Linked DNA regions of Homo sapiens. The protein of the gene in region 2 purifies or fractionates together with the protein of the main gene of each other region. This does not show direct contact. Each region holds a gene or a part of one and is shown on either strand. Other genes may lie near its edges.

What was found. Proteins that work in one complex are often made in the same cells at the same time.
Region 1: the proteins of IGSF1 (region 2) and ACVR1B purify together in Homo sapiens (affinity purification with western blotting; one study listed by BioGRID). This does not show direct contact.

What each region holds. Positions count from the first base shown.
Region 1 is NC_000012.12:51,985,992-51,989,961, reverse strand, and holds part of ACVR1B (activin receptor type-1B isoform a precursor), read right to left. Parts: intron 3,145-3,970; coding exon 3,020-3,144; intron 1-3,019. UniProt on the Homo sapiens protein: Transmembrane serine/threonine kinase activin type-1 receptor forming an activin receptor complex with activin receptor type-2 (ACVR2A or ACVR2B).
Region 2 is NC_000023.11:131,272,963-131,276,583, forward strand, and holds the end of IGSF1 (immunoglobulin superfamily member 1 isoform 1 precursor), read right to left. Parts: intron 3,287-3,621; coding exon 2,999-3,286; intron 2,804-2,998; coding exon 2,516-2,803; intron 2,325-2,515; coding exon 2,037-2,324; intron 1,916-2,036; coding exon 1,637-1,915; intron 1,245-1,636; coding exon 1,121-1,244; intron 970-1,120; coding exon 834-969; 3' UTR 544-833; downstream 1-543. UniProt on the Homo sapiens protein: Seems to be a coreceptor in inhibin signaling, but seems not to be a high-affinity inhibin receptor. Antagonizes activin A signaling in the presence or absence of inhibin B.

The sequences.
Region 1 (3,970 bases), on a different chromosome or scaffold from region 2:
CCAGGCTGGAGTGCAGTGGCACGATCTCGGCTTGCTGCAACTTCCACTTCCTTGGTTCACGTGATTCTCCTTCCTCAGCCTCCCAAGTAGCTGGGACTACAGGCGTACGCTACCATACCTGGCAATTTTTTTGTATTTTTAGTACAGACGGGGTTTCACTATGTTGGCCAGACTGGTTGCAAACTCCTGACCTTGTGATCAGCCCACCTCGGCCTCCAAAAGTGCTGAGATTACAGGCATGAGCCACCGCGCCCGGCCTAATGTTCATTTTTTAAAGTGTGGTAATAGCACTGCATTTTTTTAAGTCCTCATCTTTAAGAACTACAAACTTAGAAAGATTTTCCATAATAAAAAGATAGTTTTAAAAAGCCAATTTAGGCCAGGCACAGTGGCTCACGCTTATAATCCTAGCACTTTGGGAGGCTAAGGCAGGTGGACCACCTGAGGTCAGGAGTTCGAGACCAGCCTGGCCAACACAATGAAGCCCCATCACTACTAAAAACAGAAAAATCAGCCCGCAGTGGTGGTGGGCACCTGTAATCCCAGCTACTCGGGAGGCTGAGGCAGGAGACTGGCTTGAACCCAGGAGGCGGAGGTTGCAGTGAGCTAAGATTGTGCCATGGCAATACAGCCTGGGTGACAAAGAGAAACCCTCTCTCAAAAAAATAAAAATAAAAAGCCAATTAATTTTTCTCAAGCCCTTTTCCAGAAAAAGAAAAACAAAACAAAACAAAAAAACCCTGCTGTCTTGAGCTAATGAGACAATTTTTTTTCTTTTAAGTAGAGATGGAGTCTCTCCTACCTCAACCTCCTGAGTAGCTGAGATTACAGGCGCCCGCCACTACACCCGGCTAATTTTTGTATTTTTAATAGAGATAGGGCTTCACATTGGCCAGGCTGGTCTCGAACTCCCAGGTGATCCGCCCACCTTGGCCTCCCAAAGTGCTGGGATTACAGGCGTGAGCCACCATGCCTGGCCTTTATGTCTGGCTAATTTTTTTATTTTTGTAAAGATAGAGTTTCACCATGTAGCCCAAGCTGGTCTCAAACTCCTGGCCTCAGGTAATCAGCCCACCCTGGCCTCTCAAAGTGCTGGGATTACAGGTGTGACACAGTGCCCAGCCTGGGAAATATTTTTAAATAGAGAATTGGACTTGGTAATTATCTAAGGGGTAGTTACAGGCTTAAGCCCTGGCCTCAGCCTGTCCGAGTCTGAACCCTTGTTTACTAAAATAGTTATGTGACCTTAGACAAATTTCCTAACTTCTCTGTGACTCATTTTCTTCATTTGTAAAATGGCGATGATAATAGCACCTACTTATTATTTACTTGTAGTAGTAAAGATTAAATGAGCTTATACATAGCAAGTGGTGAATAAATGTTAGCATTATTATATATTTAGCCTCAATTTCTGGATGTCATAAGAAGAAATAAACTTATTCACAGTTTAAGACCTGTGTGACCAGATTTTTCTTAGTTTGTTTGTTTTTTCTTTGAGATGGAGTCTCGCTCTGTCGCAAGGCTGCAATGCAGTGGCTCGATCTTGGCTCACTGCAAACTCCGCCTCCAGGGTTCAAGCGTTCTCCTGCCTCAGCCTCCCAAGTAGCTGGGACTACAGGCGTGCACCACCATGCCCTGCTAATTTTTGTATTTTTAGTAGAGACAGGGTTTCACCATGTTGGCCAGGATGGTCTCGATCTCTTGACCTCGTGATCCGCCTGCCTTGGCCTCCCAAAGTGCTGGGGATTACAAGCGTGAGCCACTGCGCCTGGCCTCTTAGTCTGTTTTACTGCATATACTGATCAAAATTTAAGAGGTACAATTCCATGAATACTACCTGGGCACTATTTCCATAATTTGGATTTTACCAAACATGTCATAAATGGAAGCTGGAAAAGGGTATTAATATACAAAACAGTTCTGCTGGAAGACTTGTCATATTTTTTGTAGATTAGATTTTTTTAATTTTTAATTTTTGTGGGAACACAGTAGATGTATATACTTATGGGGTACATGAGATGTTTTGATACAGGCATGCAATGCATAATAATCACATCAGGGAAAATGGGATATCCATCCCTTCAAGCATTTACACTGTGTTACAAACAATCTAATTATATTCTTTCAGTTATTTTAAAATGTACAATTATATTATTGACTATAGTCACCCTGTGGTGCTATCAAATACTAGGTCTTTAAAAAATATGGAACGCTTCAGGAATTTGCATGTCATCCTTGTGCAGGGGCCATGCTAACCTTCTCTGTATTGTTCCAATTTTAGTATATGTGCTGGCGAAGTGAGCACCACCAGTTCTTTTTTTCAATCACTTTCACTGCCCTGGAATCTCTTATATCACAGATAAATGGCTGAGAGTAGGGCTCTAGAGGTCCTGGAACTTGATCATGTGGCAGAATATATGGAAATTATCATAAAATACTGATATACTAAGTTGACAATAAAAAGTGTTTCTGCTAAATCTGATACTATTTCTTACTGGATTCTGTCATGAATAAGCAGCTGCAAATGCCAACGATTTTTAACTATGGGAGAAAAAACTCACTTTTAAGAAAAATCTATGCACTTTTATAAATTTAGAAATTAGCACTATTATTTTAACAATGAAACAGCAGGGTTTCCCATGAATGTGGCTTGGGAGCCACCGCGTTAGAATATACTGCTTCTGATGTGAAGGAGACCACTGCATGAATCCCGTGCTATGCGCACCGGGGCACTCCCCGCCACGGACTAATAAAACAATGTTTGTTTGTTTATAAAGCCAAACGAGCCTTCAGAATGGTTACCATAACACACAACGCTATTCAACAAACTGATCCCTGAAGAATAAACGCACCCTAAGCACAGCTACCTCCACACCTTTGATGGCAACCTTAAACGATGATTCAGGCTCTGGCAACAGGCATCCAACAGGTTGTAAAAAGAAAGGGGGCAGTAAAACAGCTTTGGGTGATCCAGCATCCTGGAATGGGAGGTAGGAGCAAAGGCAAAAAAGAAAGGTACCTCCAGAATTGCATCTTCGAGCAATCTCCCAATATACAAGCCCGAGGGCATAAATATCAGCACATTTAAAGGAGTCAAAGTGTTTCATATTAATGGTTTCATCAAGTACTTCAGGGGCCATGTATCTGCAATAGCAAAACAAACATGGTCACGCACAGAAAATGATGACTGCTCTCTTTAAATCAAAGTATTGATTCAGGAGCCCTCTGAATGTGGAAGAGTATCACCCTGATAAAGTCCCTTGGGGCAGAAGAAGTGTACACATCTCTTCATTGCAAACTCCCATGTTTTAAATTTGATTCTAAATACTTCAGCACAGATTTGGCAATACCAGGCTACTCTGATGTGTATCTCTATTTTTAACCATCAAGATTTGTTTATTTGGCCAGGTGCGGTGGCTCACGCCTGTAATCCCAGCACTTTGGGAGGCCAAGGTGGGCGGATCACCTGAGGGCAGGAGTTGGAGACCAGCCTGGCCAACATCGCGAAACCCCATCTCTATTACAAATACAAAAAATTAGCCAGGCATGGTGGCAGGCGCCTGTAATCCCAGCTACTCGGGAGGCTGAGGCAGGAGAATCACTTGAACCCGGGAGGCGGAGGCTGCAGTGAGCCATGACTGTGCCATTGCACTCCAGCTTGGGCAACAAGAGCGAAACTCCATATCAAAAAAACAAAGAGAGAGTAAAGATTTGTTTATTTGAAGCATGTTTTGACTTCTTGGCAGAAGTACTTGTAATGTGGGTCACAGGGGCAGTAACAGTACCTAATATTTGGTTGACACCAGGGTCCTTCACTTTATTGAATGTAGTCACAGTGATGGGTTGAGCTTAAGTTTCATTCCGAACTGCTTTTGTTATCTTACCTGACTATAGATATGTCAAAATTAATTCTAGAGGTGGTCAGCGGCACCCTTAATGACTCTGAGTAGTAATTATGAGTAATTACTAT
Region 2 (3,621 bases):
CACCTCATCTGCTTACTGGCTTCTTGAGATCCCACCATTACACGCACATTCCTTTGGGAAAATGGAACTCTCTTTAGAGAGGGACAAAGTATCAGATTTGATTAATTGTTCTTACTTAAGAGTGAATTCATTTACACCCTGTGATTGCTAGGTAAGGGTCACAAAGCGCGCTTTTCCAGTTTCAAAGTGCTGCTGAGGGCCAATCCCACTGTTTGAAAGTGGATGTACTATGGACCCAAACGTAACACAATGAAATGCATGTAATGTCTGTGTTTTCCCTCCTCAGGCTCAACTTGGAGAGAGTGTTGCCATTCATTCATTCATCTATCCCATGGAAGGGCAAAAGAATACTCTGGTCAGTGACTATGTGTCAAACCAAATTGGGAAGTAGCTATTTTGGAGCCCCCTCCCCACGCCCATCCTTGAACAACTTTCTCTTTTCTCGTACCCCTGCACTCTCTTATTCTGCCATCGAGATCAGCTCCAATACATCATTTCTAAATTGTTAGTGGAAAACAGACCAATAGAAGACCACAGCCATAGTTTTTGAAGTTAAATAGTGAATACTCTTTTTATTCAGAAGAATGCATTTTTAATAGAATTTCATGCGCCAGTAAATCAGTACAGTGAGGAGTTACAGGGGTGGGGAACCTCTCTTCAGGAAACATCTCACCCTGGCAGAGCTCTCAACTCCCAGAATCCCCTTTACCCAGCTCAGGTGATTAGAGACCAAGGAACAGCAGATGGGGCTGACTTGCAGGGTAACTGGTTGGATTTATAGGTCTCTGAGAGCAAGAGAGAGGAGAGGAAAGCTCTTGTAAAGGAGGAGATTATTATATTGGAACGGGCAGTTCCACAGAGATTCTCTGAGAGGTTGATGAAGGAGAATTGGCAGGGGTGCCTGGTTCTCCTTCTTGGTTACACTCTTCAAGGGCAATGGTCTGGTCTCTTCCGTCTGTCTCTGAGCCTCTATGTAAAGAAAAAGACATGAGTAAGGGAGGACCCAGAAACTGAAAACAGATTGCACGGTGGGGCTCAGATACTAGGGGAGCATTTGTATGATTGTTTTTCTAGCACCACCTGGTTCACAGAAGGGGGCCATAATGAGGCATTTATTTACCTGGTTCGCAGTCGAGGCCACTTCTTCCACTCTATGGCTAGCACTACCCCCAAGGCTACAACAACCACCACGATTAGGCTACTTCGGACAATGTTCCCTACAGTGCACTCCTGAGCAACAGGCCCTGTGGTGATGAAAGAGGAGAAACCGAGGCCATGGAGATTAGCGTGTGTATGTTCCCCTTGATCTGGTATTGCCCCACACTCTGGCCTTCTTTAGGGTTCACGTGGGAGCCATCTGTTCAGACTACAGAGGGGGTGGGCAGTGGCAGAGTTTATGCTGAAGCAGAAGCAGCCCTCCTTTCCTTGGGGAAAAGAGGCCTGAAAAGAAACCCACTCACTATCTTCAAATATATTTAAGGTCCCACCTCCTCATCATCCTTAGGAGAAAGATGACACACTTCAGGTCCCTGGCTCCAAAGCTCCTCCATTCTCCTGATTTGGGATGTCTCCATGGGGACTGTCCCTGGGATCCCAGGTGTGTCACACCAGGACCATGGAGAGATTATTCTCTTACCTGCTGCCCCCACCAGCTCCAGGGGATCACTAGGCTCTGACCAGATATCAGGGTAGGCCTGGAGGCGGTAGCTGCAGCTGTAGTTTCCAATGCCTTTTCCTTCTACGTTGTTGATGACAAAGTCTCCATCCTCTGAAAACTGCTGAGGTGCTTCTTCTCCATCATGTTCTAGGACAAATTCAACACCTGGCAGGGGTCCTCGGCACTGAAGGGTGATGTCCTTCCCTAACTTGAACATGGTGCTGGGCCAGGCTGACAGAGAGGGTTTAGGGGGCTTATCTGCAACCAACAAGGACACAGAGTTAAAAGAAATGATCCTGAACTTAGCCTTTTACCCCCTTATTGCTTACTGCTAAAAACTACAAAATCGTGACTTGTACTGAAGTCTCCAGGACCTTACCAGTCACCCAGATCTCCAGGGAGTCACTGTGATTTGAAGCTGCAAAGGGAGTAGAGTCCAAATAATAAACACAGCTATAGATCCCAGAGTCTTCACCTCTCACTGCTGGCATCCAGAAGTCAGCCCTGTACCCACTTGGCCTCTGTTGCTCTAAAGGCTCCTGAGCCCCCTCCTTCAACAGGACAAATGTTGAGTCTGGCAGTTCCCCTTGACACTGAAGAGTCATATTTTCGCCAGGGGCCACCATGGGACCAGGCTGGGCTAATAGGCTGGGTTTGGGGAGTAAGCCTGGAAGAAATGAACTCCTGGTCAAAGAGAAGAGGTCACTTTCCAGTGCATCACCCCTGGGGTCTCTGCTCAATAAAGAGGAAAGGCAATTGGTTGCCTCTCCTCGAGCTCTCTGAAAACTATCTCCCATGAACTAGTCTATTCCCTCCTTTCTACACTTCCATGCCCACTCGACAGCCTCTTCCCCTTACCTGTGACTAGGAGTTCCAGGGTGTTGCTAGGTTGTATCTTGATAGAACTGGTCCAGTCAGGGTGGTAGCAGCAGCTGTAACGCCCCATGCTAGTACCAGATATATTGGTGATGGGGAATGCCCCGTCATTACTGGTGGATCCCCAGAGCTGCATTGAAGTGGCTTCTCCTTCTTTGTGCAGAATGTATCCTACTCCATGGACCGGCCCTCGGCACCAGAGAGTAACATTCTGCCCCATGGGAACCACAGAACTGGGCTCAGCAAACAACCATGGCTTAGGGAATGTGTCTAGAAAGAGACCAAGGTTGTAAAGTGGTGACTATAGAAACTTATGAGTTCCTGCTTAAATTAACACTCTATCTTTCTCCTCTTGGGCACGGTAGTTCCCCTCCGTGGCCTAGCCTAGCCTTCCAGGAGGAATTACTCTCCCTAACCCCTTCTCCAATGATCTCCATCCCAGTCCCATGTCCGGTCGGTCCTTACCAGTCACCCAGATCATAAGGGGCATACTGAGATATGACCCCCTGTTTGACATGGTTGTCTCATAGTAGATACAGCTATAGTTCCCAGAGTCCTCTGCTCCAACAGTGTGGAGAAGGAAGTCAGCTGAGTTCCCTGAGACACTCCGAAACTGTAAGGGAACATGGGCTCCCTCCTGCAAGAGGGCGAACCTCATGCCCTGGAAAGTCCCTTGGCAGCGCAGGATCACACTCTTCCCAGGAAACACCACAGGACCTGGCTGTGCCAGGAGAGTGGGTTTGGGGTAGAATTCTGAAATTAAAGAGACCACAGCATGAGATAAACCCAGCCCTCACATCCTGCAAATAGCCTTTTAAAGTGTTATTGTAAGACACAATATATGTTTGTTGTTAAAAATTAGAAAATATAGAAAAAAAAACTAATGAAGGAAACACAATTCTACCACTCAAAGATAAATATTTTTAATATTTAATTGCCATTTATTCTTTCCATATATTCCCATGTCCATGTAGCTATAACTGTTTACATAATTGGGACTCCACTTATGCACAGTTGTGTAGTTGTGTAGTATGCAGCTGACATTTCAAGGTCTTCTCCCTTTCTCTGAGAGCCATCCAGCCCACCGG